Linked DNA regions of Homo sapiens. The protein of the gene in region 1 interacts with the protein of each later gene in a pairwise test. Each region holds a gene or a part of one and is shown in the gene's direction. Other genes may lie near its edges.

Region 1 (7,521 bases):
AAAGTAAGGTTTGGAATCATTGCCTAATAATATTTTCAGCCATAGGATATCCAGGAATGAAAAAAGTTAAGTATTTTTATTTTGCTTACCAAAGCAATGTCTTAAGTTCTGCGGAAGGCTGTAATGAATATCTGCAATTATCATATGCTAAATTTGACCATGACTACAATTTGTTTTGAGATACAAACTAAATGATTTTTCCAGTGCTTAAGTAGTTAGTGAGTCAGTCTGAGGGTGCATTAAATACTTCACATCAACAAAGGTAAAAATCAAATAAGATCTTGCCTAAGGAGAGCAAATAAGACATCCCTCGCTGGAATCGTATCTGTGATATCCACTTAGATTGTGTGAAGGAACAGACCATAAGCACAATTTGGGCAGAGACTCCCTTAACTTTTGCCCTTATTTTTCCATTGTACAATTTAACTACTTAATCCTCACCATAGACAATACATGCAATGAAAAGTCGTTGAGTGAATGAATGAATTAATGATTCAGAACACTTTAATGAACTCCTTTTCTCATACAAATTTTGAAATATGTCATGTTCTACAATGTTTATCCATATCACCTAGGGAGGATGTGGTCATGTTTCCTGCAGTCTGTAGATAAACAAATTAATATCGTATGGCCATAGACACTCACACCTCTTTTCACTTAACCTTCTCCATTCTTCGTCTCTTCACAGAGAGATTCAACGTGTATCTTATGCCTACACCAAACCTGGATATTTATGGTGAATGCACAATGCAGATCACTCATGAAAATATCTATCTCTGGGATATCCACAATGCCAAGGTCAAACTGGTGATGTGGCCTCTCAGCTCACTGAGGAGATACGGTCGGGACTCAACGTGGTTCACGTTTGAGTCAGGAAGGTAAGATCTAGTGCAGCAGCCAAGTGCAGGAGTTGTCTGTATAACAGAGTCTGTATAACAGAGTCCTGAAAGAGAGTGCTGTCCATCATTGCCCCCAGTGAGCACTGTTTTCATTCAGGGTAAAAGTTACCAAATACATAATTTCTTCAGATTCTTAATAACATGAATACAATTCTGTTAGTTTTTTGGCAGGCTAATTACCCCATTCAAAATAATTTCAGTTTCTTACACTACCATCAAACTCAAACTGGTTTTGTAATTATTTTAATAATGTAATATGTTTTGCAAGATTATTACAATACTATATTTTCGGTGTGCCTGTATGCAAAAGGACCTCCATAAAATTAAAGGCAGCATGTCCTTGCTTGCATTGTTTTTGTGAGTGTTTTTTAATAAGCAAACAATCTTTTTTTAAAGTTTTAAATAAATTTAAATATTGCTTTTAGGCAAATATACTGCTTTCTTGATCACAGCATATGGTTGGAATCCATAAGGGTCTGAAATGAATCCTTGATTCACAATCATTATTAATAAACACGGATTTAGACATAAACTACAACCAACCAAATCATTGTCTTTATGCTATGACCCCATTGTAGTATTGTCACACATCCAAGATAAGACTTAGGTTTGGGGATTTTATATGAGGAGATGTTTAATGCTTCCATCTTCACCCAGGGTACATGATTTATCACATTCTTAAAATGAATTCATGGCCTTATAAGGCAATTATAGTGAAGTTTTATTGCATTTGATATAATATTTTTAAGTTTATAACTTTCTTCTTAAAAACTGCTAAATATTTACTCAATGTCACATTCTAATAATATCTATCTAGCCAGCTAGGGTAGGTCCCATGTCTCTTAAAATTTTAAGGAGGGAAAAAACAAACAAAAAACCTGAGCTGGAGTAATTTTACCAGTCTGGGGCCCTTTTGCACTACAGTAATATTAAAGTCTCTACCACACTGATTTCTCTGAAAAGCATTAGATCCTGTGTTTACTTAGTAGTTATGAGCTTGTTCAACTATTTCTGTCTACCTAGATATTGAGAGTGCAATAGTGTAATCACATTCCGATAGCCATTGGGAAATACAAATTCTAATAAGAAAATGAATATTTTTAAGATATGTTTACTATTTTAAAAATTATGACTATGAAAATGAGTTGACATGTTTTAGAGATTCACTGACCTAAAATCTATGATGCACCTTATTTTTTTACTGGCTTTAAAAAGGTAGTATATTAATCCATTTTCACACGCTGATAAAGACATACCCAAGACTGGGCAATTCACCAAAGGAAGAGGTTTAATGGACTCACAGTCCCACGTGGCTAAGGAGGCCTCACAGTCATGGCAGAAGGAGAAAGACACATCTCACATGGCAGCAGACGAGAGAAGAGAATGAAGCCAAGTGAAAGGGGTTTCCCCTTATCAAAACATCAGATCTCGTGAGACTTATTAACTACCATCAGAACAGCATGGGAGGAACTGCCCCCATGATTCAGTTATCTCCCACTGGGTCACTCCAACAACACGTGGGAATTTTGGGAGCTACAATTCAAGATGAGATTTGGGTGGGGACAGAGTCAAACCATATCAGTTAGTTTTACATATATATACATATATATATATATATATGAATTGAATGTTGTTGTTAAGGTTTTGTCGGGGTTGGGGTTTTGTTTTCGTTTTTGCATCATTTACCAGCACTACCTCCAGGATCCCTTCCCTTGGATCCTTCTAGATATACCTATCTTCCTCTTTCTATGGAAAACAATTTAACTATTTTGTCTGTTACAACGTTTCAATAGACTTCCACTCAAAATTTTAAATAACAAGTCATTTTCTTTCATGAAGAATGGTTATTCAGAATTTTCACTCCATTTATACCTGTCCACATTAGTTTTTTAAGATCTTTCTATTTCATAGAGGAATTTGGTATCTATTTTTTTCCCTCTGTTTATTTCCTTGTCTTTGAGATTAGAGATCTGTCCTTTGGACACAGTTCATTTGTGTGTTTCTCCTTCTCTGAATTTTGGGTGTCATTTGCTCTTTAGTGACTGAGAAATTGTCCATAATTTTGTGCATCTGTTTTGTAAATTCCAGATGACTTCACTGTTGTTAAAATGAGCCAGTGGGGGAAGGTCTTGTCCATACTTGATCTAGAGAAATAAAAGTGGGACATTGTGTTCCCTGGGTCTGGACTGATGGGGTCACTGGTGATGAGACTGGGGACAATTTAGAGGGCAGATTGGCAGGTAAGGCATGGCCAGTCATGCTAGCAAACCAAAGCCAAAGGCCAACACTTTCTAGGTTTTATTAGCTCATTGCCCAAGGCATATCACTTGGTATAAATTTTAGCTATTTATTTATACTACTATATGCACTAATAGTAGTATTAGTACAAATAATACATATGAAAATAATACAATTGGATATGTCAAAATACTTTTTTCATTGACACACTTTTTCAAATGCATTGTTAAATTCTGCTGTAAAACTGACATGTAGACATGAACAGTAGGAATGGATATACATCGTTTATTCTGGAGAAGCATCCTTCAGTCACCCTTGTAATTATAATTATATGCCATAAGTCTCAAGGAGCACTCACCTAGTGTGGGGCAGAAGGAGAACAAGGACCAGGAAACTCTCCATGGTAATCATCCTCAGCGCAGCATGGCGCCCAGGAGATGTATTCATAGTCTCACATCAGCTCGGAGCAATTGCTCTTTTACCATAAGGATCATAACTTTGCATTTTAAAGGTAGAAACAACCAATTTGCCATGCAAGCATATTTTCTCAAGATAATCACAAAAAAATACCAGACCTTCAGAGGAAGTGATAAGATTCATGATTATGTACAATTTTATCCTGTGAAAGACAAAACTCCTTTATTTAACTGCTGACTTGACATTTTTACTTCATGTTACCTCATAAATATTGTAAGCAAAAATCAAGATGAGTGAAAATGCCTGCATGGCCAAAATTCAGGCGAACCCCTGATCTTTTGTATGAATTATTTTTCAAAAACTAAGCACCCATATTCAGCATGATGCTTACTAGTAGAAAATTGGTGCTTAAAATATGTGTCTCACTAACTTTGATAATATTGCTTCCATTTAGAAACCTGGGAAAAACCCAGTTACTAATTTTTAACAATTAGAAATGCAAAATAATACTTAAATATTGCAATATAGTTATTATGAAAAGGTGGTTAGTGGTAGCAAATGTTATATGTCATACAATTAAGGATTCTGTGATGTCATAGGTAGGCTTAATTTATTCCTAAACCTTCGTTGGTCAGGGATGCAAAGAGAAAGAATCTTTTCTCTAATGCATAACCAAGTGGTTAAGAGGAAAGATAAAACAGAAAGTTCTTAAATATGATACAAAAGCATAAAAATATAATTAATACATAATAAATATGAATTATGTTATATACACTATAAGGTCTAAGTTAGTTAAGGAATTTCTCACATATGGACTCCAACATTTCTGTACTAACCCAGAGTTATCAATGCCCTTCTGGGTTGGTTTTTTTTTTTTTTTTTTTTAAATATCATTTGATTTGCCATCAAGAGTGTTAGTGGTACACATATCTTCATAAAAGAGTGTACTGCTGGGACTCTAAGATTTTCTTCTGAACTACTGATATCTGTCCTGCAAGTTTTTTATGCTTGTTGGTGCAAAGTTTATCTACCAGAAGGTGTACACAGTAGGTTTTTAGACAACAAGGTCTCGTGTTTCTCTTTCAAATGGTCCTAAAACATTTCTTGACTGAAACATTGAAGAGTTGCAATTAACTAAAATATAGTCAAACACAAGACATGAAGTGCCAACATTGCACAGAGCTTCAATTGAAGTGAGGAAATCCTGAGCCTGTACACACAGGCAACAGCAGCCACATCACTACCACCACTTGGCAGCCATCATTTGGAGGCTGCTGTTCCATAGACGATGTCATAACAAAATATACCCCAATTTCAGAAATACTAAAATGTAAAAACATGTGCTTCTGTTGAATGAAGGAATTAATCAATGAATGGCTTCATTGTTTGAATAAAGCCAGCTGGGGGTGGTATATCCTGGGATACAGAAACCTATGAGTGAATGTGGTGACGTTTCACAAATCATGGGAGGAGATCAAACCAGAACTTCACAGCTCTCTTGACTTTATCTTCTTGATTCCAGAAATCATTCTTGATTTAATGACTATGAATGAAGTTTAGGAACTTTCTGAATGAGAATAAAAGAAGCCTAAAAGGCGACCAAAACTGTCATTGTGATTACTACAGACCAATTAGTAAAAAGCAATTCACGTTAAAGTATGTGTGGGTTCAATAAAAATGTATTGAACTTTAAACTTAATTGAGCAATAACTAAGATCAGAGTCTCCATTTCTCAATAAAAACAGTTTCCTAAGTCATTTAATTAATGCTCTCTCCGAGGGGGAAAAAAAAAAAGCAGACCTGGTATTATCATAGCAAGAGATTTACCAGATTAGATACACAGAAGGAAAAGGCACTAGGTTCCTAAACACTTTGTCTTGGCATTATCTCTTTGGAATTAAAGCAAGGGTTTATATAGACCTATGATTTTAAAACATTGAAAACATCCCTGATGCAAATTTTTTTCATGGAGGCCTTTGCTACTCTATACTTTGTAATTAAAACCCAATTAGATATTATGATTTAAATCTTTTTGTGGCACCAGAAACCTCATTTATTCTCTGGGCTACTTTATTTCATTTATCGAACACTATGGTAAGAACTAAAGAAACAAAAATAGGTAACACATAGTCCCTTCCCTTAATGAGCACATAGTGTACTTGGTAAGATAGATCAACTAATGATTTCAATATAATATAGGAATTGTAATAAAATACATCCCAGGAGGGTTGTGTATTAGGAACATAGGTTAAGTTGTATCATTTTAAAAACATTAATGATGTCAACCCCCATTCTCAATAGCTCAATACAACAAAGATTTATTTCCCACTCAAGCTATGCCTGATGCAGGCTTGGACAGATCACCAGGGCACCTGGATTCAGAAACCTAGGATGCTGCAATCTTGTGACTCAGACATCTTCATGCTAACCTACCTCATTGCCATGCATAGCAGGGGAAGAAGGTGGGAACATTCTCCAACAAGCATACTATGGACTCAATTGTTTCTCCCCAAAATTCATATGTTGAAACCCTAAACCCCAAACTTCTTATATCTTTATGACAAGAGCCAGAGATGATAGGTCCTTTATAGATGGAATTAAAGTTAAATGAAGTAATAAGGGTGGGGTCCTAATCTGATTGATAGGATCGGTGGCTTTATAAGAAGGAGAAAGAAACCTCTCAGTCCCTCTTCTCTGCCATGCGGAGGAAAGACCTCAAGAAGGTGACCATTTCCAAACCAGGAAGAAAGCCCTCACCAGAACCCAACCATGCTGGCACCCTGATCTCAGACTCCAGCCTCCAGAGTGAGAAAATTAATTTCCGTTGTTTAAGTCACCCACTCTGTGTCATGTTTTTCTTATGGCAGCCTGCGCTAATACAAAACATTTAAATACTTTAGTACAGTGGTAATGCATGTTATTTCTATTAATAGCCCACCACCCAGAAGGTGGCCTCCACAGCCCCCCCACCCCACATCTGCGAGGGGACAAGTAGGGAGTATGTGGAATATTTGGAAAGTATATTGTCTCTGCCACAGTCATATCTTCTGATGAGCGAAGATCCCTTTTCTCTCTTCTTCCTACACACTCAATTGTTCCTTAAGGGAAACAATCCAAAAAGCAATCCAGCAAGCCACTGATTATAGCTCAAAGTCCAGAGTCTGCAGGCGATTTGTAGCAGTGTGTACATCAGGTCCAGATATGACTTTTTTTTTTTTTTTTTTTTGGAGACGGAGCCTTGCTCTGTCGCCCAGGCTGGAGTGCAGTGGCGCAATCTCGGCTCACTGCAAGCTCCGCCTCCTGGGTTCACTCCATTCTCCTGCCTCAGACTCCTGAGTAGCTGGGACTACAGGCGCCCGCCACCATGCCCAGCTAATTTTTTTGTATTTTTACTAGAGACGGGGTTTCACCGTGTTAGCCAAGATGGTCTCCATCTCCTGACTTCGTGATCCACTTGCCTCGGCCTCCCAAAGTGCTGGGATTACAGGCGTGAGCCACCATGCTAGGCCGATATGACTTCTTATAGTTCCAAAAGAATGATCCAGAAAAAGATGCTTTTTTTCCCCCCTCTACCCACCCTGGCCCAAGGAACAGTGGCTTAAGAGAGGTGGGATGCCTGCCCCTGCAAACACTCCCATTCAAGGGAAAGTTTGGGAGGCAAGCAGGCAACAGTCACTGGTCCTGGTAATTCTGAATTGCTGCTTGCCAGATATCTTCAGGGTCTTTATCCAGAATTAACAAGGATATGTGGCTGGGCCCTCATTCTGCTCTTTGGGAAGAACGTGCCAATCCTCTATTCCACTTGGTTCTGCCCTCGGCCCTCCAGGAGGATTTTCCTTTATCATTATCCTCCTTGTCCATATTCGAACTGGACGTTGGGAAAATGTTCTCTTTGAAGCGTTGCACGTTTCTCAGTCCACATTCTACCCTGAGAAGTTGTAGTAGAGATCTGAAGGTTACTGAATCT
Region 2 (7,521 bases), on another chromosome or scaffold:
TTGAGGCAGAATCTAACTCTGTAGCCCATGTTGGAGTACAGTGGCATGATCATAGCTCATTGCAGCCTTCAACACCTGGGCTCAAGTGGCTCTCCTGCCTCAGCCTCCTGAGTTGCTAGGACTACAGGCACATCCCACCATGCCTGGCTAATTTTTAAAATATTTTTGGAGTCAGGGGTCTCACCATATTGCCCAGGCTGGTTTGAACTGGTTTCAAGCGATCCTCCCACACCCCGAGTAGCTGAAATTACAGGTGTGGAGCCACCGTGCCCAGCTGTTATTGTCTTTTTTCATAAAGGCCATTCTATGGTATGCAGTGGTATTTCATTGTGGTTTTAAGTTATTTTCCTTATGACTAATTGAGCACCTTTGCCTATGTTGATTAACCATTCAGATCACCTCTTTTTTAAAATGCTTGTAAAAATCTTTTAACCATTTCCTGTTTTTCTGTATTAATCTGTAACAGTTCTTTATATATAAGTATCTTCTCCTTCTTAGTTGCCCTTCTTTCTCTTAATGGTATCTTCTGATGAATAAAAGTTTTAAATTTTAGGCCGGGCGCGGTGGCTCACGCATGTAATCCTAGCACTTTGGGAGGGTGAGGTGGGCAGATCATTTGAGGTCAGGAGTTGGAAACCAGCCTGACCAACATGGTGAAACCCCATCTCTACTAAAAATACTAAAATTAGCCACACATGGTGGTGGGTGCCTGTAATCCCAGCTACTTGGGAGGCTGAGGCAGGAGAATCACTTGAGCCCAGGAAGCAGAGGTTGCAGTGAGCCAATATCGTGTCATTGCTCTCCAGCCTGGGCGACAGAGTGAGACTCCGTCTCAAAAAAAAAAAAAAAAGTTTTAAATTAAATTTATTTTTTTGGGTTGGTCCTTTTGTGTACTTGTTAAGAAATCTTGGCATACCCCCAGGTCAGAAAGACACTTTGTTCTGTTATCACCTAGAAGCCTTACTGTTTGATTTTTCATATTTAATCCTACAATCCAGTTGGAATAGATTTTTTTGGTATGGTGTGAAGCAGGAGTAAAGGCATATTCTGGACTGCAGTGGCGCAATTCGGCTCACTTCAACCTCCATCTCCCAGGTTCAAGCAATTCTCGTGCCTCAGCCTCCCAGGCAGCTGGGATTACAGGCCCGCACCACCACGCCCAGCTAATTTTTTGTATTTTTAGTAGAGACTGGGTTTCGCCATGTTAGCCAGGCTGGTCTTGAACTGGCCTCAAGTGATGTGCCTGCCTCGGCCTCACAAAGTGCTGGGATTGCATGTGTGAGTCACCGCGCCTGGCTCTTTACTGCTTTTATGTGCCACATTTTTCACAAATCAGTGGACTATATATGTGTAGGTCTGTTTCTAGATTCTCTTTTCTGTACAATTTGGTGTATTTGTACTTGGATTAGTACTGCACTATGTCAATTATTGCAGCTTTGAAATACCTATTGATATCTGGTAGTATAAATCTTCCAGCTTCGTTCTTCTTCAAGGTTATCTTTGCCTTCCTTCACATTTTGCAGTTCCATATGCATTTTAATATCAGCTTCTCACCTTCCACAAATAACATTGGTGCATTTGCATACTGTTTTTTCCTGTTCTTTTTTATTTTTTCAGTAGCTGGAAAACAACACTTAATTTGTATTCTATCATAACCTACTTTTTTCACTCACCTTTTTCCATGTCAATAAATACTTTTTTTGTTTAACAATATATAATGTTCTATTGTTGATTCCAGCATTTTTCCTTTACAAATAACAATGTGATGTACAGTCTTAATTTTTTTGTCTTTTCTGTGCCTCCGTGATTATTTTCTTGAAAAATTTTAAGCATTTATACTTACCATAAATATTGAATACCATTAGACCATGTGTTGCAGGAAAAACTAAAACAACAGTTCCTGGCCTCTGGCTTATAGTCTAGGGATTATAAAATATATTCATAATTCACTGTAATTATGTATAGAAATGAGAGGCAGTATAATAAGTGGTTAAAATCTGAATTCTAGTGTCAGAGTGTTTGAGTTTGAAAACCTTCTACTTGCTATCTATATGACTCTAAACAGTTACTTTTCTTCTTCGTGTCCTAAACTTCTTATCTGTTTGGGAAAAAAAAATGAGCCAAGTGTGGTGGCACATGCCTGTAGTCCCATCTACTCGGGAGGCTGAGCAGCTGGGAGGATTACTTGAGCCTGGGAGTTCAGGGTCCAGCCTGGGCAACATAGTGAGACCCCCATCTCTTGAAAAAAAGAAAAAAGTGGATAAAGTAATTCTAATAAGGGGTTGGGAGGTTTAGATGAGGTAATATGTTAAGCACTCTGGTGTCTAACGCACAGTGGGTCAATTAAGTGTTATTATTATGATTGTGATTATTTCTAGAAAATAAGGACTATAATTGGGTCCTGGTAATTGTCTTTTTTTTTTTTTTAATCATTTTAAAGTTTTTCTGGAAAGAGAAAGCCTCTGACATGGGCTGAAGGTGCTCTCTCTTCTGAGTCCTAGGAATTGTACAAATAGGTACTCCTTGGAATCTGTGATTTTCATTGTTTATTATTATTCTAGAAACCCTAATCTGCTCTAACAGTGTTGGGCTCATAGTAGACAGCACATATGTATATTAAGTGAGCAAATAAATGAATGTAAATGTGTTCTAGAGAGACTGGTTTGTGAATTGAAAGAATTGTGATGATCTAATTAATGTTTTGGTTTCAGGTTTGAAAGATTAGAAGTCCTGGCTGTATTTGCCTCCACAGTCTTGGCACAGTTGGGAGCTCTCTTTATATTAAAAGAAAGGTACATTTGTATAGGATATTATTCTAAATCCCCCCATGACACCTTTGGGAACATGAAAGAAACCCGTCAGACACATTTGCTTTCAAGGGTATGAAAACTTAGATGAGCAGGGCTGGAGTTTTGATAGTACACTTTCTTTATGTTTCAGACTTTTTCTTCTGTTTCATTTTTTTTACTTCCTTCCTTAATGCTACTAAATTGAATCAGAAGTGGTTGTGAATGAAACAGAGATTCAGTCAGGCATGTTTGATGCTTATTACAAACCCATTGAAATAGGCTTGGCAGAGAAAGATAGACATTACATATTAAGGATAATTTGTGAAAAAAGAAAACAACTAAAAAGGATAATTTATGAGTCTCCTTGCCTCATCACTGCTAATAGTTAATAGTTATAATATTAAAAGATTTTGTGAACTTTAAGGTGGGTGAATGATATATTTAATAAAGCTTTTTAACTTTATAATTTATAGGACTTATTTAATATATTTTTATTTCTTATAGTGCAGAACGCTTTTTGGAACAGCCCGAGATACACACGTGAGATTTTATTTTCAATATATAATTTACTATTGATTCTTAATTATTAATTGATGTATTATTAAACAGTTGGCCAATGTCAGATTTCAGACTGTGGCAACATAACGTTTTTGCTGGTATTTCACAAACAAAATTCCCTAATACTAAGACTCCGTTTCTTTACTCTTAACAGTTCCCAAGTTCTAAATATTTTTATACTACACAGGAAGGCCTTTCTATCTTGGCTTCAGGCTTCTCATTATTTCCAGGCCTAGGAAACACTAACCCAGCTTCCCCTAGTCTTCTGTAATTTCAAATTTGACCTTCAAAATCTTTGCATAGCACCTGTAGAAAAGAGAATTGGACGAGGCTCAGGGATTCAGTGTAATCCCAGCACTTTGGGAGGCTAAGGCAGGAGGATCGCTTGAGTTCAGGAGTTCAAGACCAACCTGGACAACAGAGTGAGACCCTGTCTCCAAAAAAAAGAAACGTATATATGTTTCATATATATTGCAACTATGTGATTTTCATATATATATGAAAAGAGAATTGTATGTATCATATATATGAAAAAACAATTGTATTTCTCAACCACAGAGCTGCCAACTATATGGACCTTATCTATTCTGATCAGTTTAATTCCACAAAGTCTGACTTGTCCAGTATATCGTAAAACAAATACCATTGATATTTATACAGATTTATAACAGCGTTTACCTGTAGCAAGATACTGTTAATGCTAAAAGTCCTTACTTATCCTTTGTAAGATGGAGCAACAGTAGATGGGACATGGGTGATGGGGCTAGTAACTAAGTTCAGATTCTGTATCTGGAAACACCAAATCATTAAAGCAGACCACTTTACCTTCCCACCTCTTAGTCCCTCTACGTATTGAAATTACATACTGATAATACCAAGAACAAATTAAAGGTGAATGTTATCGTTGTTCTTTTTAGGGGAAGATTATTAGTTGGTACTTTTGTGGCTCTTTGTTTCAACCTGTTCACGATGCTTTCTATTCGGAATAAACCTTTTGCTTATGTCTCAGAAGGTATGTTTTTTATTTACTATTAATTTAAAAATCCAACTAATCTCTCATAAAAACAAGCCTTTTGTTTGTTTCGTTCACTCAGATCAATGAAGAAGTATATTCTGAAGACAAGAGAGAACTAGCCCAAATGTTCTCAAGTCTTTTTTAAGTGGAAAATTATAAAACAAAATCTCATTAGTTCAAGCTTTAAAATAACAAATTATTTTAAAACAGGCAGGAGTGACCTGTAAATTAAATCATGTGGTGATGAAAAATTACATTTACCAAATAATGTGAGATTCTAAATGTGTAATCTATCTAAGAAAAGTCTATTGTAAGCATTTTAGAAGTATCAGTATACTTAGAATTCTTAGTTGATATGCTAATTGAAAATAATTGTATTCTGTTAATAAAGTAAGTTCCCAGGAACTTCTCTTTGGCAATGGTGGATGGGCATATATGTTTGCAAGTAGCCAAACTTTATTTCTTTGGAAATATTCTTTTATTTTGAAGTATTTACAACTTCAGACTGATTTTTCACTTTTGCAGTCTAAATTATTTTCTTTTTTCAATAATTTCAGTGTTTTGGAATCCCACTAACCCACAAAAGAGTTAGCCACTAAGAGATGGAGAAGTGAGGTGAAAATAGAAGTGGGATGTGTGCACAGACCCACACTTTGAAGTATAGAGAAGCACAGATAGGTGTGGATCTTTTTAGATCTCACTCTAGGATAGTCAAGAGAAGAAAGTTTTCTGAAATGCCCATTCAAGTTTAAACAACTTCATGAATGTTATGAAGATAAATTGTGTTTGTATGAGTTAAAGAAGTACTGCATGAATTAGAAAATTAAATAATGATAATTAAGATCACTAGAATTTCTTGAAAAAAATTCATAATTTATAAAATACTATAACACTTACTCTAGAAATTTTTAAGATGGTGCAAAGATTTAGAAACACTGTTTCCCTGTAAAGATCAGGGAGATACAAGAAGGAAATAAGACTACTGATAATCTTATGACCCACAGATAATATGTTAACATTTCTATGTTATTCCTTCCACTTTTTTGTATGCACACGTACATATAATTTTATGTGCTTACTTAGAATTGTATATATTACAGTTTTATGCCTGGCTTTTTTTTTTTTTTTTTTGAAACGGAGTCTCACTCTCTTGCCCAGGCTGGAGTGCAGTGGCGCAATCTTGGCTCACTGCAACCTCTGCCTCCTTGGTTCAAGGGGTTACAGGAATGTGCCACCATGCCTGGCTGATTTTTGTATTTTTAGCAGAGACGGGGTTTCCCCATGTTGGCCAGGCTGGTCTCACTCCTGACCTCAGGTGATCTGTCCACCTTGGCCTCCCAAAGTGCCGGGATTACAGGTGTGAGCCACTGCGTCCGGCCATGTCTGGCTTTTTGATTAGCATTATGTCTTCAGTATTGCTTCTCATTAAATACTCTTTGAATGTAAATGATTTTTTAATGTTTGCATAATATTGTTATGAATATTTTAAAATATTTTATACATTTCTAACTTTTCCTTTTATAAATAACTCTATAATCAGCCTCTTTAGATCAACTTCGTCTGCATTTTTTATTCTTTCTGTAGGATAAATTCCCCGAGAAGGAATTATTTACTGGATTAAAAATACAGTATTTTTCAAAGGCTTTGTTGTATATTGCCAAATTTATTTCCAGAAAAGTTATCTAGTTTATATTTTTATTATATTATATTATATTTATTTATTTATTTATTTTTTAATAGAGACAAAGTCTACCTGTGTTACCCAGGCTGGTCTCAAACTCCTGGGCTCAAGCAGTCCTCTCACATCAGCCTCCCAAAGTGCTGGGACGACAGGCGTGAGCCACTGCTCCCAGCCTACTTTATATTTTCATTAGCTGGAAATGGAGGTTCCCAGAAACATCAAGATTTGTGACATTAGCTGGGCTTGGTAGCATGTGCCTCTAGTCCCAGCTACTCAGGAGGCTGAGGTGGTTGTATTGCTTGAGTTCAGGAGTTTGAGTTCAGCCTGGGAAACATAGCAAGACTCTGGCTTTAAAAAAAAATGAAGGCTGGGTCTGGTGGCTCACACCTGTAATCCCAGCAGTTTGGGAGACCAAGTCAGGCGGATCACAAGGTCAGCAGTTTGAGACCGGCCTGGCCAACATGGCAAAACCCTGTCTCTACTAAAAAATTATAAAAATTAGCCGGGCATGGTGGCAGGCGCCTGTGATCCCAGCTACTTGGGAGGCTGAGGCAGGAGAATCCCTTGAACCCGGTAGGCGGAGGTTGCAGTGAGCCGAGATCACGTCATTGCACTCCTGCCTGGGTGACAAAAGTGAAACTCCATCTCAAAACAAAAAAAAAAGAAAAAAGATTTGTGAAATTACTTGAAATTTGAGTGGGAAATAATATTAAGTACTTTCTATATGCCAAGCACTGCTAAATACTTTACATAGAATAACCTATTTAATTCTAGCCAGGTAGGTACCCAGGTTCTCACCTGGCTTTTTTGAGAGTTGAGGGAATTAATTTGTATGTAGTTTGAATATCCCTTATCTGAAATGCTTGGGGCCAGAAGTGTTTCACATTTTAGATTGTCTTAGATTTCGGAGTGTTTGCATTATATGTATGGGTTGAGCATCCCAAACCTGAAAATTTAAAATTCGAAACGCTCCTATGAGCATTTCCTTTGAGTATCATGTTGGTGCTCAAAGTTGTGGATTTTTGGTTTTCAGATTTGGGATCCTCAGCCTGTACCTATGGCCCGTTCTCAGCACACTAGTTAGGAAGCTCTGCTTAAAAGTATAAAGAACTGCTGGGCATGGTGGCTCACACCTGTAATCCCAGCACTTTGGGAGGCCGAGGCAGGTGGATCACCTGAGGTCAGGAGTTCAAGACCAGCCTGACCAACATGGTGAAACCCCGTCTCTACTAAAAATAAAAAATTAGCCAGGTGTGGTGGCACGTGCCTGTAATCCCAGCCACATGGGAGGCTGAGGCAGGAGAATTGCTTGAACGCGGGAGACAGAGGTTGCAGTGAGCCGAGATGGCACCACTGCACTCCAGCCTGGGCAGAAAGAGCAAAACTCCATCTCAAAAGAAAAAGTGTAAAGAACCTTTAAAACCTTAAATTAATAGTAACAATGACATAAATTCCTTCAGGTCAACTGTATATTGTAT
Region 3 (7,521 bases), on another chromosome or scaffold:
GTCAGGCCTGTACTGGGCCAAGAGGATTGAAAGGAGAGGCCCCCAGGTCATGGGGCTCAGAGCCCCTGCGTGGGATACAACACACAGGCAAATGTGCACACGTGGACATCAGCCTTTGAGCTGTGGGGCTTGAGCCAGGTTGGGGGCGGGGTGGAAGTGCATGGTATGGACTTCTCGGGAGCTCTGGGAGGGGCTGGGTTTGGCAGGACAGTTTCCAAGCCCTGTCTCCTCCCATCTTCCAGTTTACCAGCAGCCCCAGCAGCAGCCGGTGGCCCAGTCCTATGGTGGCTACAAGGAGCCTGCAGCCCCAGTCTCCATACAGCGCAGCGCCCCAGGTGGTGGCGGGGTGAGTAACCCTGGCCGGAGGGGAGAGGCCAGAGGCAGGGGGTCCTTCGGGAAGGCTTGGACACAGCTCATGGATTCTCCTGACCTTTGCACCCACCCTCTGTTGTGTGTGATGATAAGGATCTCAGCCTTGTGAGCAGAGAGGAAATTGGTTGGCGTAGTGGGCAGAGGCTGGCTGGGACTGGGGCCCTGCGTTCCAGCCCTGGTGTACCATGGGCAGGTTGCTCACCCTGCTTTGGGTGGGGTTTCCTTACCCCAGCTACCTGGGAACACACAAGGCAACTTTCTGCATGGGGCCTTCCAGCACTGGGCGCTGCTCTCCTCGCTTCATGAGGATGGCCCCCACATCCTTCAGCTCTCAGGCTGCCCCTGCCTCTGAGGGGCCTCCCCAGCCATGTCGTGTAAAGCGCATCACCCTGATGCTTTGCATCACTCGACTCCGCTGGCTGCCTTCAGAGCACTTTTTCCAACTAAAAAGAGCTCTTCGTGTTGGTCACCTTCTCTGTGTCCCCTGCTGGGCTGGGGACCCTGGCAGCGTCCGTCTGGTTCACCTACTCTGAGCCAGGCCTAGAGCAAGTGAATAAGCCCAGCAGGAATGGGGTGAGATCAGGCTTCCTGAGCCCTCAGAGCTGAAGTCCCGGCTCTGTAAGTCCTGCCACTCACTCCACCCATGGGTGCCGCTGAGCCACCCTTACCAAGCTCCTGGCAGGCTCAGCGCCTCCAGGCTGGGTGCCTGGGAATTCAAAGTAGCTCACGTAGGAGCAGAACAGATACTTAGAGAGATAAAATCGCCTGAGATAATGGCTGGCTGGAGTCTGATGCTCTGGGCACACAAACAAAGGGATGTTAGGACTGCCCAGGGCACTGTGGGCGCAAGAGTTAGTCTGAAGTATAAGGTTCCAGGCAGCCCAGCCAGTCCCTCCCTCCTCAATGGGTCTGTCCTGGATGTGTAGGGTCCATCTCTGAATATAAAGCCACCTCTCTGCCCTCTGGGGGCTTACATTCCAGTCAGGGGGACAAACAAGAAAACAATAAGAAAATAGGTGTATAACATAAGGTCAGCGGTGACACGCTGTGAAGAGAAAGACAGCAGGGTGAGGGATGGATAGAAAGCAGCTGGATTAAGACATTTGGCCGGGGGTGGTGGCTCACGCCTGTAATCCCAGCACTTTGGGAGGCCAAGGCGGGCAGGTCACTTGAGGTCAGGAGTTCGAGATCAGCCTGGCCAACATGGTGAAACCCCCTGTCTACCAAAAATACAAAAATTAGCCAGGTGTGGTGGTGTATGCCTGTAACCTGTAATCCCAGCTACTCGGGAGGCTGAGGCAGTAGAATTGCTTGAACCCGAGAGGCAGAGGTTGCAGTGAGCCAAGATTGCACTATTGCACTCCAGCCTGGGTGACAGAGCAATATCTCCAAAGAAAAAAGACATTTGGCCGGGTGCGATGGCTCACACCTGTAATCCCAGCACTTTGGGAGGCCAAAGTGGGCAGATCACCTGAGGTCAGGAGTTCGAAACCAGCCTGGCCAACATGGTGAAACCCTGTCTCTACTAAAAATATAAAATTAGCTCGGCATGGTGGTGCATGTTCATAATCCCAGCTACTCGGGAGGCTGAGGCAGGAGAATTGCTTGAACCTGGGAGGTGGAGGTTGCAGTGAGCCGAGATCACGCCATTTGCACTCCAGCCTGGGCAGCAAGAGCAAAACTCCAGCTAGAAAAAAAAAAAGAAAAAAAAGACGTGACATTTGAGCAAAGTCCTCAATAAAGGAAGGAGTGAGCCGTGCAACGAGGACAGGAAGTGCAAAGGCTCTGAGGCAGGAATATTCTAGGAAAGTTCAGGGAGCAGCAGGAAGCCCGAATTGACTAGAGTGGGAGAGGGTGGGAGGTCCGATTATGCAGGGACTTGTGGGCCCCAGGAAGGCCTCTGTGACCTGTGATCTGTGCAGAGCGACATAGGTTTTTGGAAGACCACCCTGGCAGCTGTGTTGAGAAGAGGCAGTGGTTTGAGGGTAGAAGCAGGGAGACCGTCAGGAGGCTGTTGCAGGATATAGGCATGGATGGGAGTGGCTCAGCCCAAGATAGAGGCAGAATTGGTGATGAGAGAGACTGAGGTTACTTCATGGGAGGTGTGACTTCTTATCCCATAGACCTGTTGGTTTCAAACTGTCCTGTGGAGCCTCAGAGACCAGTCAAGGGCAGTGAAGGTCAGGGGAGGTAGAATGTTGTCTATAGCTATAGGATTTATTTTTCTTTTTTTTTTCCTCTTTCTTTTTTTAAACTCCATCCTGGTAGTAGGTGGCGCTGTAGGTTTTTGTGTGCCTTACTGAACATTACCTAGATCTAGGGCTTAAGCGGCAGATTTTGGCTGAGGCTTGGAAGGTGGAACCTGATAGACTCGTCTTCTGTCCTCTGAAGATTTTTCTCCCAAGGAAAGATCTTTGTCCTGAACTTGGACAGGACTCATCATGGCTTCTAAAAGAAACTACTGGTGCTTATAATCATACAAATAATAGCATACAGGGCATGTTTTTTCTGTTTTTTTTTTCTTTTTTGAGACAGGGTCTTGCTCTGCTGCCCAGGCTGGAGTGCAGCAGTGGTGCAATCACAGCTAGCTCACTGCAGCCTTAACCTCCTGGGTTGAAGCCATCCTCCCACCTCAGCCTCCTGAGTAGCTGAGACTACAGGCATGTACCACTAAGCCTAACTAATTTTTTATTTTTTGTTGAGATGGGCTCACGCTAGTACTTTGGGAGGCCGAGGCGAGCGGATCACTTGAGACCAGGAGTTTGAGACCATCGTAGCCAACATGATGAAACCCTGTCTCTACAAAAAAGTACAAAAATTAGCCGGGCATGGTGGTACACGCTTATAGTCCCAGCTACTTGGGAGGCTGAGGCAGGAGAATCGCTTGAACCCGGGAGGCGGATGTTGCAGTGAGCCAAGATCACACCATTGCACTCCAGCTTGGGTGACAAAGCAAGACTCCATCTCAAAAAAAAAAAAAAAAAGAGGGAGTTGGGGGGTCTTACTGTGTTTCCCAGGCTGATTTCAAACTTCTGGGCTCAAGCAGTTCTCCTGCCTTGGCCTCCCACAGTGCTGGGATTACAGGCGTGAGCCACTGCACCTGGCCTGCATGTCGTATTTTTAGACATTACTCTGTCATCATGGCTGGTGGACCTTACTGCAGTCCTGTTCAGGGAGGTGGGGCAGAGCTGATGTGACCCGGTCCCTGCTCTGCCTCTGGCCCTTAGTAGCTGCCAAAGGTTGTAAAAGATCGATTGCTCTCAGAAAGCAAGACACAGAGGTTAAGAATCTTTGCAGCAGAGCCTGGTGCTCCATTTCTGAGTTCACTGCTCCCCCAGGCTCTGCTCCAGGGTCGTGGAGAGTTAGAAAAAAATGCTCAGACCCAGGTGAGCCGGCATGCAGGGCCCTAGGCTGACCACACTTCCCCCACAGAAGCGGTACCGCGCGGTGTATGACTACAGCGCCGCCGACGAGGACGAGGTCTCCTTCCAGGACGGGGACACCATCGTCAACGTGCAGCAGATCGACGACGGCTGGATGTACGGGACGGTGGAGCGCACCGGCGACACGGGGATGCTGCCGGCCAACTACGTGGAGGCCATCTGAACCCGCAGCGCCCCCATCTGTCTTCAGCACATTCCACGGCATCGCATCCGTCCTGGGCGTGACCCGTCCATTCTTCAGTGTCTCTGTTTTTTAAAACCTGCGACAGCTTGTGATTCCTACCCCTCTTCCAGCTTCTTTTGCCAACTGAAGCCTTCTTCTGCCACTTCTGCGGGCTCCCTCCTCTGGCAGGCTTCCCCCTTGATCGACTTCTTGGTTTTCTCTCTGGATGGAACGGGCATGGGCCTCTCTGGGGGAGGCAGGGCTGGAATGGGAGACCTGTTGGCCTGTGGGCCTCACCTGCCCCTCTGTTCTCTCCCCTCACATCCTCCTGCCCAGCTCCTCACATACCCACACATTCCAGGGCTGGGGTGAGCCTGACTGCCAGGACCCCAGGTCAGGGGCTCCCTACATTCCCCAGAGTGGGATCCACTTCTTGGTTCCTGGGATGGCGATGGGGACTCTGCCGCTGTGTAGGGACCAGTGGGATGGGCTCTACCTCTCTTTCTCAAAGAGGGGGCTCTGCCCACCTGGGGTCTCTCTCCCTACCTCCCTCCTCAGGGGCAACAACAGGAGAATGGGGTTCCTGCTGTGGGGCGAATTCATCCCCTCCCCGCGCGTTCCTTCGCACACTGTGATTTTGCCCTCCTGCCCACGCAGACCTGCAGCGGGCAAAGAGCTCCCGAGGAAGCACAGCTTGGGTCAGGTTCTTGCCTTTCTTAATTTTAGGGACAGCTACCGGAAGGAGGGGAACAAGGAGTTCTCTTCCGCAGCCCCTTTCCCCACGCCCACCCCCAGTCTCCAGGGACCCTTGCCTGCCTCCTAGGCTGGAAGCCATGGTCCCGAAGTGTAGGGCAAGGGTGCCTCAGGACCTTTTGGTCTTCAGCCTCCCTCAGCCCCCAGGATCTGGGTTAGGTGGCCGCTCCTCCCTGCTCCTCATGGGAAGATGTCTCAGAGCCTTCCATGACCTCCCCTCCCCAGCCCAATGCCAAGTGGACTTGGAGCTGCACAAAGTCAGCAGGGACCACTAAATCTCCAAGACCTGGTGTGCGGAGGCAGGAGCATGTATGTCTGCAGGTGTCTGACACGCAAGTGTGTGAGTGTGAGTGTGAGAGATGGGGCGGGGGTGTGTCTGTAGGTGTCTCTGGGCCTGTGTGTGGGTGGGGTTATGTGAGGGTATGAAGAGCTGTCTTCCCCTGAGAGTTTCCTCAGAACCCACAGTGAGAGGGGAGGGCTCCTGGGGCAGAGAAGTTCCTTAGGTTTTCTTTGGAATGAAATTCCTCCTTCCCCCCATCTCTGAGTGGAGGAAGCCCACCAATCTGCCCTTTGCAGTGTGCAGGGTGGAAGGTAAGAGGTTGGTGTGGAGTTGGGGCTGCCATAGGGTCTGCAGCCTGCTGGGGCTAAGCGGTGGAGGAAGGCTCTGTCACTCCAGGCATATGTTTCCCCATCTCTGTCTGGGGCTACAGAATAGGGTGGCAGAAGTGTCACCCTGTGGGTGTCTCCCTCGGGGGCTCTTCCCCTAGACCTCCCCCTCACTTACATAAAGCTCCCTTGAAGCAAGAAAGAGGGTCCCAGGGCTGCAAAACTGGAAGCACAGCCTCGGGGATGGGGAGGGAAAGACGGTGCTATATCCAGTTCCTGCTCTCTGCTCATGGGTGGCTGTGACAACCCTGGCCTCACTTGATTCATCTCTGGTTTTCTTGCCACCCTCTGGGAGTCCCCATCCCATTTTCATCCTGAGCCCAACCAGGCCCTGCCATTGGCCTCTTGTCCCTTGGCACACTTGTACCCACAGGTGAGGGGCAGGACCTGAAGGTATTGGCCTGTTCAACAATCAGTCATCATGGGTGTTTTTGTCAACTGCTTGTTAATTGATTTGGGGATGTTTGCCCCGAATGAGAGGTTGAGGAAAAGACTGTGGGTGGGGAGGCCCTGCCTGACCCATCCCTTTTCCTTTCTGGCCCCAGCCTAGGTGGAGGCAAGTGGAATATCTTATATTGGGCGATTTGGGGGCTCGGGGAGGCAGAGAATCTCTTGGGAGTCTTGGGTGGCGCTGGTGCATTCTGTTTCCTCTTGATCTCAAAGCACAATGTGGATTTGGGGACCAAAGGTCAGGGACACATCCCCTTAGAGGACCTGAGTTTGGGAGAGTGGTGAGTGGAAGGGAGGAGCAGCAAGAAGCAGCCTGTTTTCACTCAGCTTAATTCTCCTTCCCAGATAAGGCAAGCCAGTCATGGAATCTTGCTGCAGGCCCTCCCTCTACTCTTCCTGTCCTAAAAATAGGGGCCGTTTTCTTACACACCCCCAGAGAGAGGAGGGACTGTCACACTGGTGCTGAGTGACCGGGGGCTGCTGGGCGTCTGTTCTTTACCAAAACCATCCATCCCTAGAAGAGCACAGAGCCCTGAGGGGCTGGGCTGGGCTGGGCTGAGCCCCTGGTCTTCTCTACAGTTCACAGAGGTCTTTCAGCTCATTTAATCCCAGGAAAGAGGCATCAAAGCTAGAATGTGAATATAACTTTTGTGGACCAATACTAAGAATAACAAGAAGCCCAGTGGTGAGGAAAGTGCGTTCTCCCAGCACTGCCTCCTGTTTTCTCCCTCTCATGTCCCTCCAGGGAAAATGACTTTATTGCTTAATTTCTGCCTTTCCCCCCTCACACATGCACTTTTGGGCCTTTTTTTATAGCTGGAAAAAACAAAATACCACCCTACAAACCTGTATTTAAAAAGAAACAGAAATGACCACGTGAAATTTGCCTCTGTCCAAACATTTCATCCGTGTGTATGTGTATGTGTGTGAGTGTGTGAAGCCGCCAGTTCATCTTTTTATATGGGGTTGTTGTCTCATTTTGGTCTGTTTTGGTCCCCTCCCTCGTGGGCTTGTGCTCGGGATCAAACCTTTCTGGCCTGTTATGATTCTGAACATTTGACTTGAACCACAAGTGAATCTTTCTCCTGGTGACTCAAATAAAAGTATAATTTTTACCTGCGGACTTGGTTTCCTCTCTGGCTCTGAGCTGCTGTTGTGTGTGTCTGTGTGTGGGTGTGTGTCTCTAGCTGTAAGGTGCTGCTGTGTGTGTGTGTGTCTAGCTGTAAGGTGCCACTGTGTGTGTGTGTGTGTGTGTGTCCTGTCTGCTTGGGGGCACTGGCCTGTGGCCCTCCTGGGACCTCTGCTGCCCCTCGGGGAGAGAATGACTTGTCTGGATGCCAAGGGGGAGTTTGCTGCTGTCTGTCAGGCCCTTGGCCCCTACTTCCTCCTTGCTGAGAACTCCCCACCAACCTACTTCTGGCTTTCCACCCGCTCATTCCTCTCTGCCCAACTTGGTGATGCTCCCGGAAGCTTCCCTGAGCTCCGTCTCGTATTACTGTGTCACTTCCTCAGTGACATATCTGTCTCCCCACTAGCCAGAGCCCTTGGGGCAGGTGATGAGTCTAATTCATCTCTAAATCCCGGGTACCTGCCCAGGAGCGGTGCGGAGCTGTTGAATTAATGAATGAGCTTGGCTGGGGAGCAGTTCTAGCACTCTGCCGCTGCCAGGCAGAG
Region 4 (7,944 bases), on another chromosome or scaffold:
GGCTGCGTCTAGGAAGGTGCTTGGCGTGCAGTGAGAGGCTCTAATGGATCTGGGCTTGTTGAAGCAAGGCAGGAAGGAGCCAGTGTTCTCAAAGTGTTGGGTGAGTAGTAGGGGAGGCGCAGCCGGCAGCAGACCTGCAGGGATTACCATTCCCACATGGGAAAGGTTGCTGTGTGAGGATTAAACACAATAACGTATATGAAAATCCCGGCTGCTTAATACATCAACTCAGGTTCAAAATCTGGGAGGAGAGAAGCTGGGCTGATGTGGGGGTTGAGATGGGAGGAGGTTTCGAGCGGAGTCACATAGGGGCCCCCCAGGGACAGCCCCACGGGAAAGCTCCAGGGGTCTTTCGGGAAGCCCCGACTGGTGCCAGCACAGCTGACACTCCTGCCCCACCCGGCTGGCCAGCAGGAATTTGCCCCATGACCGCCCCTGGCAAGCTGCTGTCACCATGGCGACCGGCCACAAAACAAGCAGCCTGATTGTCCCTGCTCAGCGGGGCAGGTGAAACCCTGGCCACGTGACCGATACTGGGCCAGGTGCAGTTAAGGGACACCCGCCACCTCCCCTCCTTAACCCATTCAATGCCACCGCGCCACCTAGGCGCAGTGTCCCGGCCGCCTCAGGCCGCACCCCTTCGGCCCTTGGTCCCCACGGCCTGAAGGGTGGTGATGAAATACACGGAGCACTGCGTTAGGAGTCAGTGAAGGAAACAATCCGGGCTGTGCACTGGCTGAGTGACCTGGAGCTGGGTTACTTCGCCGTCCAAGCCTCTCTTTCCTCATCAGCAGAATAAGGACGGCACCCTCCCACTTCACAGGAAGCCTGGGAACACGGATGGGGCAGTGTACACTCGACCTCCAAAGAGCGATAGTCCATTTCACCTCCCACCTTCACCTCCACATGTCAGGGGCTCCGGAAGTCCTCCCCTCTGGCCTCCCCTAGAAGGAGGCCTTCGCCAACCAACAGCACGCTTCCTGGCCTGTTCCTAACAAGCTGAGAGGGCTGGGCAGCCCCCAGGATGACACCACCCCCAGATCCATTCCCAGGTAGCAACGACCCCTCCCCTGCCCCCACCACTTTCTCTGGAATGTTCAAGTGGAAACATCAAACCAACTGGTTTTTCTGCTTGCCTTCATCAGCCACCTGATCAGGGCTGGGGCCCAGGACTCTGAGTAAATATCTCAAGGCTGCTTCTGCCCCTAGATGTGGGGATCTTGGGCCAGGCTGAGATTACCTGGTGGAGGGTGGGGTGTATGGCAGGGATCAATTTGAAAGCACCTTTGAGGCCAGGCACAGTGGCTCATGCCTGTAATCCCAGCACTTTGGGAGGTCGAGGCAGGAGGATCACCTGAGGTCAGGAGTTTGAGATCAGCCTGCCCAACACGGTGAAACTCAGTCTCTACTAAAAATACAAAAATTAGCCGGGCATGGTGGCGCATACATGTAATCCCAGCTACTTGGGAGTCTGCAAAAGAGAATCGCTTGAACCCGGGAGGTAGAGGTTGCAGTGAGCTGAGATTGTCCCACTATACTCCAGCATAGGCAACAGAGAGACTCTCTCAAAACAAACAAACAAAAAAAAGCACCTTTGAAATACTATTGTTCTGAATCTTCAACCCCCACGCCCTTCACCCACCAACTCTAGAAAAACACCCACCAACTCTAGAAAAACACCCACCAACTCTAGAAAAACACTCTCCAAGGACCCCTCCCAGGCCTGGGACCAGCCCCCATACAGGGCTCAGATGTCCTCATCACTCCCCTAATTACTATGCGGGAAACATGATCACACCACCTGGTGTGCTTAGAGTCCTCGGTGACCTCAGCCCTCCTCAGATTGGAACCAAACACCTCAGGGTCCCATTAAGCAGGAGATGGAGCTTTACAGAGTTAGGACACATCCTCAGCTTGGCCAGCATGGTGAAATCCTGTCTCTGCCAAAAACAGAAAAAAATCAGCCAGGTGTGGTGATGCGCGCCTGTAGTCCCAGCTACTCGGGAGACTGAGGCATGAGAACTGCTTGAACCCGGGAGGCAGAGGTTGCAGTGAGCCAGGTTCCAGCCTCCATGACAGAGCCAGACCCTGTCTCAAAAAAAAAAAAAAATTAATGGCCAGGCGCAGTGGCTCACACCTGTAATCCCAGCATTTTGGGAGGCCGAGGCGGGCAGATCACCTGAGGTCGGGAGTTTGAACCAGCCTGACCAACGTGGAGAAACCCCGTCTCTACTAAAAATACAAAATTAGCCGGCGTAGTGGCGCATGCCTGTAATCCCAGCTACTCGGGAGGCTGAGGCAGGAGAGTCGCTTGAACCCAGTAGGTAGAGGTTGCGGTGAGCCAAGATCGCACCATTGCACTCCAGCCTGGGCAACAAGAGCAAAACTCCGTCTCAAAATATAATAGTAATAATTAATTAATTAATTATTTTTTTAAAAAAAAAGTTAGGACTCATCCTGTAGGTCCTGGACCGCCCTAAGGAGGTGGGGGAGGGGTCAGTGTAAGACTAGCTGGCCCAGGTGTCATATCCGGGAGGGCCACTAACCCAGCCACCCGCAGGACTTCCACATAAGCATTTACCAGTGCCCTGAAGCTCTTGATGACTATTACCACTTTGCACCAGATGAACAAGACATAGCTCCCGCTGTGGACACACAGGGAGGGCTGCCTCTATAATACTACACAGTAGCCTCTGAGAAATGCTTCCAGAACATTCCATGAAAGAGATTAGTTTTAACTCAGAAAGTCTGCGAAGGCTTGAGGAGGAGGCAGCAGTTATACAATGCCTTAAAAGGCCTATAGCTGAGGCCAGGCATGGTGGAGCACACCTGTAATTCCAGCTACTCAGGGGGCTGAGGCAGGAGGATCAGTTGAGTCTGGGAGTTCCAGACCAGCCTGAAACTGTCCCCTTGCTATGCCTAGAACATAGTAAGACTCTATCTCTACAAAACAGAAAAAAATTAGCCAGACATGGTGGTGCACATCTGTGGTCCCAGCTACTCGGGAGGGTGAGGCAGGAAGATTGCCTGGGCCCAGGGGGAAGAGGTTGCAGTGAGCCGTGATTGTGCCACTGCAGTCCAGCCTGGGTGACGCAGTGAAACCCTGTCTCAGAAAAAATAAAATAAAAGCCATATACCTGAGACAGGAAGGTCGCTTGAGGCCAGGAGCTGGAGACCAGCTTGGGCAAGGTAGCAAGACCCCTTCTCTAAAAAAAATTTTGTTGGGCCAGGTGTGGTGGCTCATGCCTGTAATCTCAGCACTTTGAGCCCAGGAGTTCGAGACCAGCCTGGGCAACATAGCAAGCCCCCGCTTCTATTTTTTAAAAAAAAAATTTTTTTTTTGAGATGGAGTCTCGCTCTGTCACTGAGGCTGGAATGCAGTGGCAAGATCTCGGCTCACTGCAACCTCCATCTCCCAAGTTCACACGATTCTCCTGCCTCAGCCTCCCCAGTAGCTGGGATTACAGGGCCGTGCCACCACCCACGGCAATTTTTTTTTTTTTTAAACGGAGTCTGTCTCCGTCCGGTAGGCTGGTGTGCAGTGGCATGATTTCCGCCCATTGCAACCTCCGCCTCCTGAGTTCAAGCGACTCTCCTGCCTTAGCCTCCCGAGTAGCTGGGATTACAGGCACCCGCCACCACGCCCAGCTAATTTTTGTATTTTTAGTAAAGACGGGGTTCCACCATATTGGCCAGGGTGGTCTCCAACTCCTGGCCTCAGGTGATCTGCCCACCTCAGCCTCCCAAAGTGCCGGGATTACAGGCGTGAGCCACCGCACCCGGCCTAAAAAAAAAAATTGTAACCATGATTCAGTAAAAAAAAAAAAAAAAAAAAAAATGTTAAAATTAGTCTGCGCCTGTAGTCCCAGATTCTCGGGAGGCAAAGGCGGGAGGATCGCTTGAGCCCAGGAGGTCGAGGCTGCAGTGAGCTACGGTCGCGTCACTGCACTCCGGCCTGGGCGAGGGTAAGACCCCCACCAAAAAAAAGTATAGGACTCGGGCAACTGGCTATCTGGAAGACAGACAGCACCCCAGCAGGAGGTGGGGTGTGGAGAAGACCTTGAAAGGCAGGGTGCCTGATAGGGGAGTATGAGAATGGGGAGTATGGGCAGAAAAGCAGGTGGGATCAGACTGGGGGAGCCTTCCCCAAACGTAAAAGGGACGAAGGGGCTTGGGGAAGAGCTCTAGAGTGCCCCCGAGCTCCTTCTAGATCGACGACTCCAGGATGGGTGGGTGTCCGTGCTCCGCCCAACCTGCCCGGGCCCCCGGCAGTGGAGCACGGCGCCACCACACTGGCACTCCGCCGCCCAGAGCCACCCTGGCGCCGCTCGCCCCCGCCGGCGGCACAGAAACGATGGCAGCCACCCAGGTCAGTGAGCGATGGCAGGTGCGGGGCGGGAACCGAGCCCTAAGCTGCAACCAGAACCGAGCACGCACAGAGCGGCGCAGACCGAATTCCCAGATTCTACGCACCGCGGCGCTTCGCGAGGGGAGGGGCAAGCACCGCGGGTTGCCCAGCCTAGGGCGAGGCCAGGTGCGGCGCTCAGGGCGACCCGCGCAAAGCCTGCGGGGATTACGTAATGGCGTAAGGGGCGGGGATGGAGGCGGGGCCGGACTGTTCTCGGGGATACGTAAGGAAACGGGACCAAGGGCGGAGAATCCCGCGATGGGGGCGGGGAGAGGGCGGGGCTCAAGTCGGAACTGGGCGGGGCGGCTGAAGACGGAAATGGGCGGGGCTGCGAGCTAGGGCGGGAGAAGGAGCGCGGGGAGGACGTACCTTGTGAGATGCGAGCCGGCCAACAGCTTGCAAGCATGCTCCGCTGGACCCGAGCCTGGAGGCTCCCGCGTGAGGGACTCGGCCCCCACGGCCCTAGCTTCGCGAGGGTGCCTGTCGCACCCAGCAGCAGCAGCGGCGGCCGAGGGGGCGCCGAGCCGAGGTCAGTCAAGGGCACCGGGCGGGAGGCCATCCTCTGTCCTCCTTTTCCTGCCGGGCCCCGACGGCCCCATCTCCTCCCTTTGGGCCTGTCACCTCCCAGGCCTCTCCCCCAAAGCTCTTTCCCCCTACCCCTTTCCCCGTCTCCGCCGGCTCAGACTCTGACCTCGATCCTTCCCCTGCCAGGCCGCTTCCGCTTTCCTACAGGCTTCTGGACGGGGAGGCAGCCCTCCCGGCCGTCGTCTTTTTGCACGGGCTCTTCGGCAGCAAAACTAACTTCAACTCCATCGCCAAGATCTTGGCCCAGCAGACAGGCCGTAGGGTGAGCTTTCGAGTGGGCGGGGCTCCTTTGGGGCTGGGCGGGAGTGGGCGGGGCCTGAGAGGAGGCGGGGCAGGGGGGGTCCCGCTTCTCACGCTCACTTCCAGATCCCTCACTCTGAGTATGGACCCTGAACGGCAACCCCATTTATTCCCTCACGTTGCCATCTTCATTAATTCATGTTGTAGATCTCCATCGGGGCTGGCCCATGCCTAGGCGCCTGCACCCTTTCCATGAAGGGGCCTGCTTGTTCACTAGGGATGACCGGGAGCTCACCACCTCTTATGGCAGCCCATTCTTCTGTGCTCCTACTGTTGGAAATTCCTGGAGTCTCCTTCCTGGCATTCTCCGAGATTGCCACCCAGCCAGGCCAGCCCTTCAGAGACGTGGTCACAACCCTGGGGCCTGCTCTTCTCTGGCAGAGTGGCCCCAGGTTCTTCATCTGGGCCTCCTAGGTCTGGAAACTGGGCCCTTCCCCTCCACAGGGTGTATCCCCAGGCTCTCCACACCTTTGACCTGCTGTCCCTACAAGCCTTTGGCTGTCTACCCCCAGAATGGGGATATCAACGCAGCCCCGTCTCACCCCACTCCCCAGGTGCTGACGGTGGATGCTCGTAACCACGGTGACAGCCCCCACAGCCCAGACATGAGCTACGAGATCATGAGCCAGGACCTGCAGGACCTTCTGCCCCAGCTGGGCCTGGTGCCCTGCGTCGTCGTTGGCCACAGCATGGGAGGAAAGACAGCCATGCTGCTGGCACTACAGAGGGTGAGCCGCCCATGTCTGGGGCCTCCTCCCATTCAGTATATACCCTGAGGGCCCTGCAGGCAACCTGGGACTCACATGATCGTTGGATGACCAAGTTCAGGCTCCAGGAGCCATGCCTGAGACTCCCTATGTCTGCCTAAGACTGGTCCCAGTTCGGTTCTCTCCCACAGCCAGAGCTGGTGGAACGTCTCATTGCTGTAGATATCAGCCCAGTGGAAAGCACAGGTGTCTCCCACTTTGCAACCTATGTGGCAGCCATGAGGGCCATCAACATCGCAGATGAGCTGCCCCGCTCCCGTGCCCGAAAACTGGCGGATGAACAGCTCAGTTCTGTCATCCAGGTGATACACCCAAGGTGCCCCGGATGGTATTGTAGACCAGGACCTGTCAAGGGAAGAGTGGCACCCCCAGACCGCACAAGGAACCTCCCCCAACTGCTGCACCCCCACAGGACATGGCCGTGCGGCAGCACCTGCTCACTAACCTGGTAGAGGTAGACGGGCGCTTCGTGTGGAGGGTGAACTTGGATGCCCTGACCCAGCACCTAGACAAGATCTTGGCTTTCCCACAGAGGCAGGAGTCCTACCTCGGGCCAACACTCTTTCTCCTTGGTGGAAACTCCCAGTTCGTGCAGTAAGCTAGCCTGGGTAGTAGGAGGGGCATGCTTTACTCGCCCAGGCCCCAGCCTGGGGACCCTACCAGGGGAGGCCTTGGGTGTGGAAGGGGGGTGGCTGAGAGGCCAGAAATACCACCGGGCATATGGGCTCACACAGCTCTCTCCATTTCTCCCCGTTCTGCTTCCACGTGTCTCTTTCACTCCTCCTCATCCCACTTTCACCCGTTTTTGATGGCCGTCGCTGCGATGCACAGTCCCAGCCACCACCCTGAGATTATGCGGCTCTTCCCTCGGGCCCAGATGCAGACGGTGCCGAACGCTGGCCACTGGATCCACGCTGACCGCCCACAGGACTTCATAGCTGCCATCCGAGGCTTCCTGGTCTAAGAGTTGCTGGCAAGAAGATGGCCGGGCGTGGTGGCTCATGCCTGTAATTCCAGCACTTTGGGAGGCTAAGGCGGGAGGATGACTTGAGGCCAGGAGTTGGAGACCAGCCTGGCCAACATGGTGAAACCCTGTCTCTACTAAAAATACAAAAATTAGCCTGGCGTGGTGGTGCACACCTGTAATCCCAGCTACTCTGGAGGCTGAGGCAGGAGAATCACTTGAACCCTGGAGGCAGAGGTTGCAATGAGCCGAGATCACACCACTACACTCCAGCCTAGGCAACAGAGCAAGACTCTGTCTCAAAAAAAACAAAACAAAAAGGAGGCACAAAACCCCAGGCTTCAAGTCTCTGCAGCCTGCTCCACATTTGGGCACAGAAGGACTCAGACAGGCACTGTGTGGGCACGAGGTTTTACAGGGGTGGTCAGACCTCAGGCTTTAATGAATAAAGACACTACTCCCAAAGTCCTGGGCTGAGGTCTGTGTCACCACCAACGTCCCCGACCCAGGGAGAATCTGGATCGGGGGGTGCTGGCAGCTCCAGGGTCCACGTGGGCTCCCCGAGTACCCTTGGCCTCTCTCTGCAGCTGATTCTGGACCTGCTGCCACACCAGCTGCTGCACGTCCTCCTGTGGACAGGAGAGCAGGTTCAAGGCTGAGCCTGTGCCCTCTTTCCCCACACCTCCCAGGCCCTGATGGCATTCCCCTACCTCCCAGGCCTCCAGCTCCCGCCTCAGCCTCAGTTTCTCCTCCAGGACCTCCAGCAGCTGGGCCTCCATGGCGTGTAGCCTGGCTTTGCATCTCTGCAGCTCCGCCTCCACCGCCTGCTTCCTGTGGGTGGCAGAGAGAGTAGCTGAGGCTCGGACCCTGTGGGTCTGGTTGTGAGGTCCTGGGGGTGGACGAGTATGGCCACAGCCCCC

Evidence for each region.
Region 2: the proteins of DOK6 (region 1) and SLC30A6 interact in binary tests that used the Homo sapiens proteins (3 or more experiments, as listed by UniProt).
Region 3: the proteins of DOK6 (region 1) and LASP1 interact in binary tests that used the Homo sapiens proteins (3 or more experiments, as listed by UniProt).
Region 4: the proteins of DOK6 (region 1) and ABHD11 interact in binary tests that used the Homo sapiens proteins (3 or more experiments, as listed by UniProt).

What each region holds. Positions count from the first base shown.
Region 1 is NC_000018.10:69,697,716-69,705,236, forward strand, and holds part of DOK6 (docking protein 6), read left to right. Parts: intron 1-688; coding exon 689-878; intron 879-7,521. UniProt on the Homo sapiens protein: DOK proteins are enzymatically inert adaptor or scaffolding proteins. They provide a docking platform for the assembly of multimolecular signaling complexes. DOK6 promotes Ret-mediated neurite growth. May have a role in brain development and/or maintenance.
Region 2 is NC_000002.12:32,189,625-32,197,145, forward strand, and holds part of SLC30A6 (zinc transporter 6), read left to right. Parts: intron 1-2,711; coding exon 2,712-2,792; intron 2,793-3,293; coding exon 3,294-3,329; intron 3,330-4,264; coding exon 4,265-4,359; intron 4,360-7,521. UniProt on the Homo sapiens protein: Has probably no intrinsic transporter activity but together with SLC30A5 forms a functional zinc ion:proton antiporter heterodimer, mediating zinc entry into the lumen of organelles along the secretory pathway.
Region 3 is NC_000017.11:38,914,801-38,922,321, forward strand, and holds the end of LASP1 (LIM and SH3 domain protein 1), read left to right. Parts: intron 1-178; exon of another isoform or gene 179-242; coding exon 243-346; intron 347-3,804; coding exon 3,805-3,978; 3' UTR 3,979-6,970; downstream 6,971-7,521. UniProt on the Homo sapiens protein: Plays an important role in the regulation of dynamic actin-based, cytoskeletal activities.
Region 4 is NC_000007.14:73,735,639-73,743,582, reverse strand, and holds ABHD11 (sn-1-specific diacylglycerol lipase ABHD11), read left to right. Parts: upstream 1-4,780; 5' UTR 4,781-4,785; coding exon of another isoform or gene 4,786-4,812; coding exon 4,813-4,937; intron 4,938-5,119; coding exon 5,120-5,255; intron 5,256-5,440; coding exon of another isoform or gene 5,441-5,847; coding exon 5,848-6,021; intron 6,022-6,191; coding exon 6,192-6,362; exon of another isoform or gene 6,363-6,472; coding exon 6,473-6,654; intron 6,655-6,891; coding exon 6,892-7,024; 3' UTR 7,025-7,489; downstream 7,490-7,944. UniProt on the Homo sapiens protein: Catalyzes the hydrolysis of diacylglycerol in vitro and may function as a key regulator in lipid metabolism, namely by regulating the intracellular levels of diacylglycerol. 1,2-diacyl-sn-glycerols are the preferred substrate over 1,3-diacyl-sn-glycerols.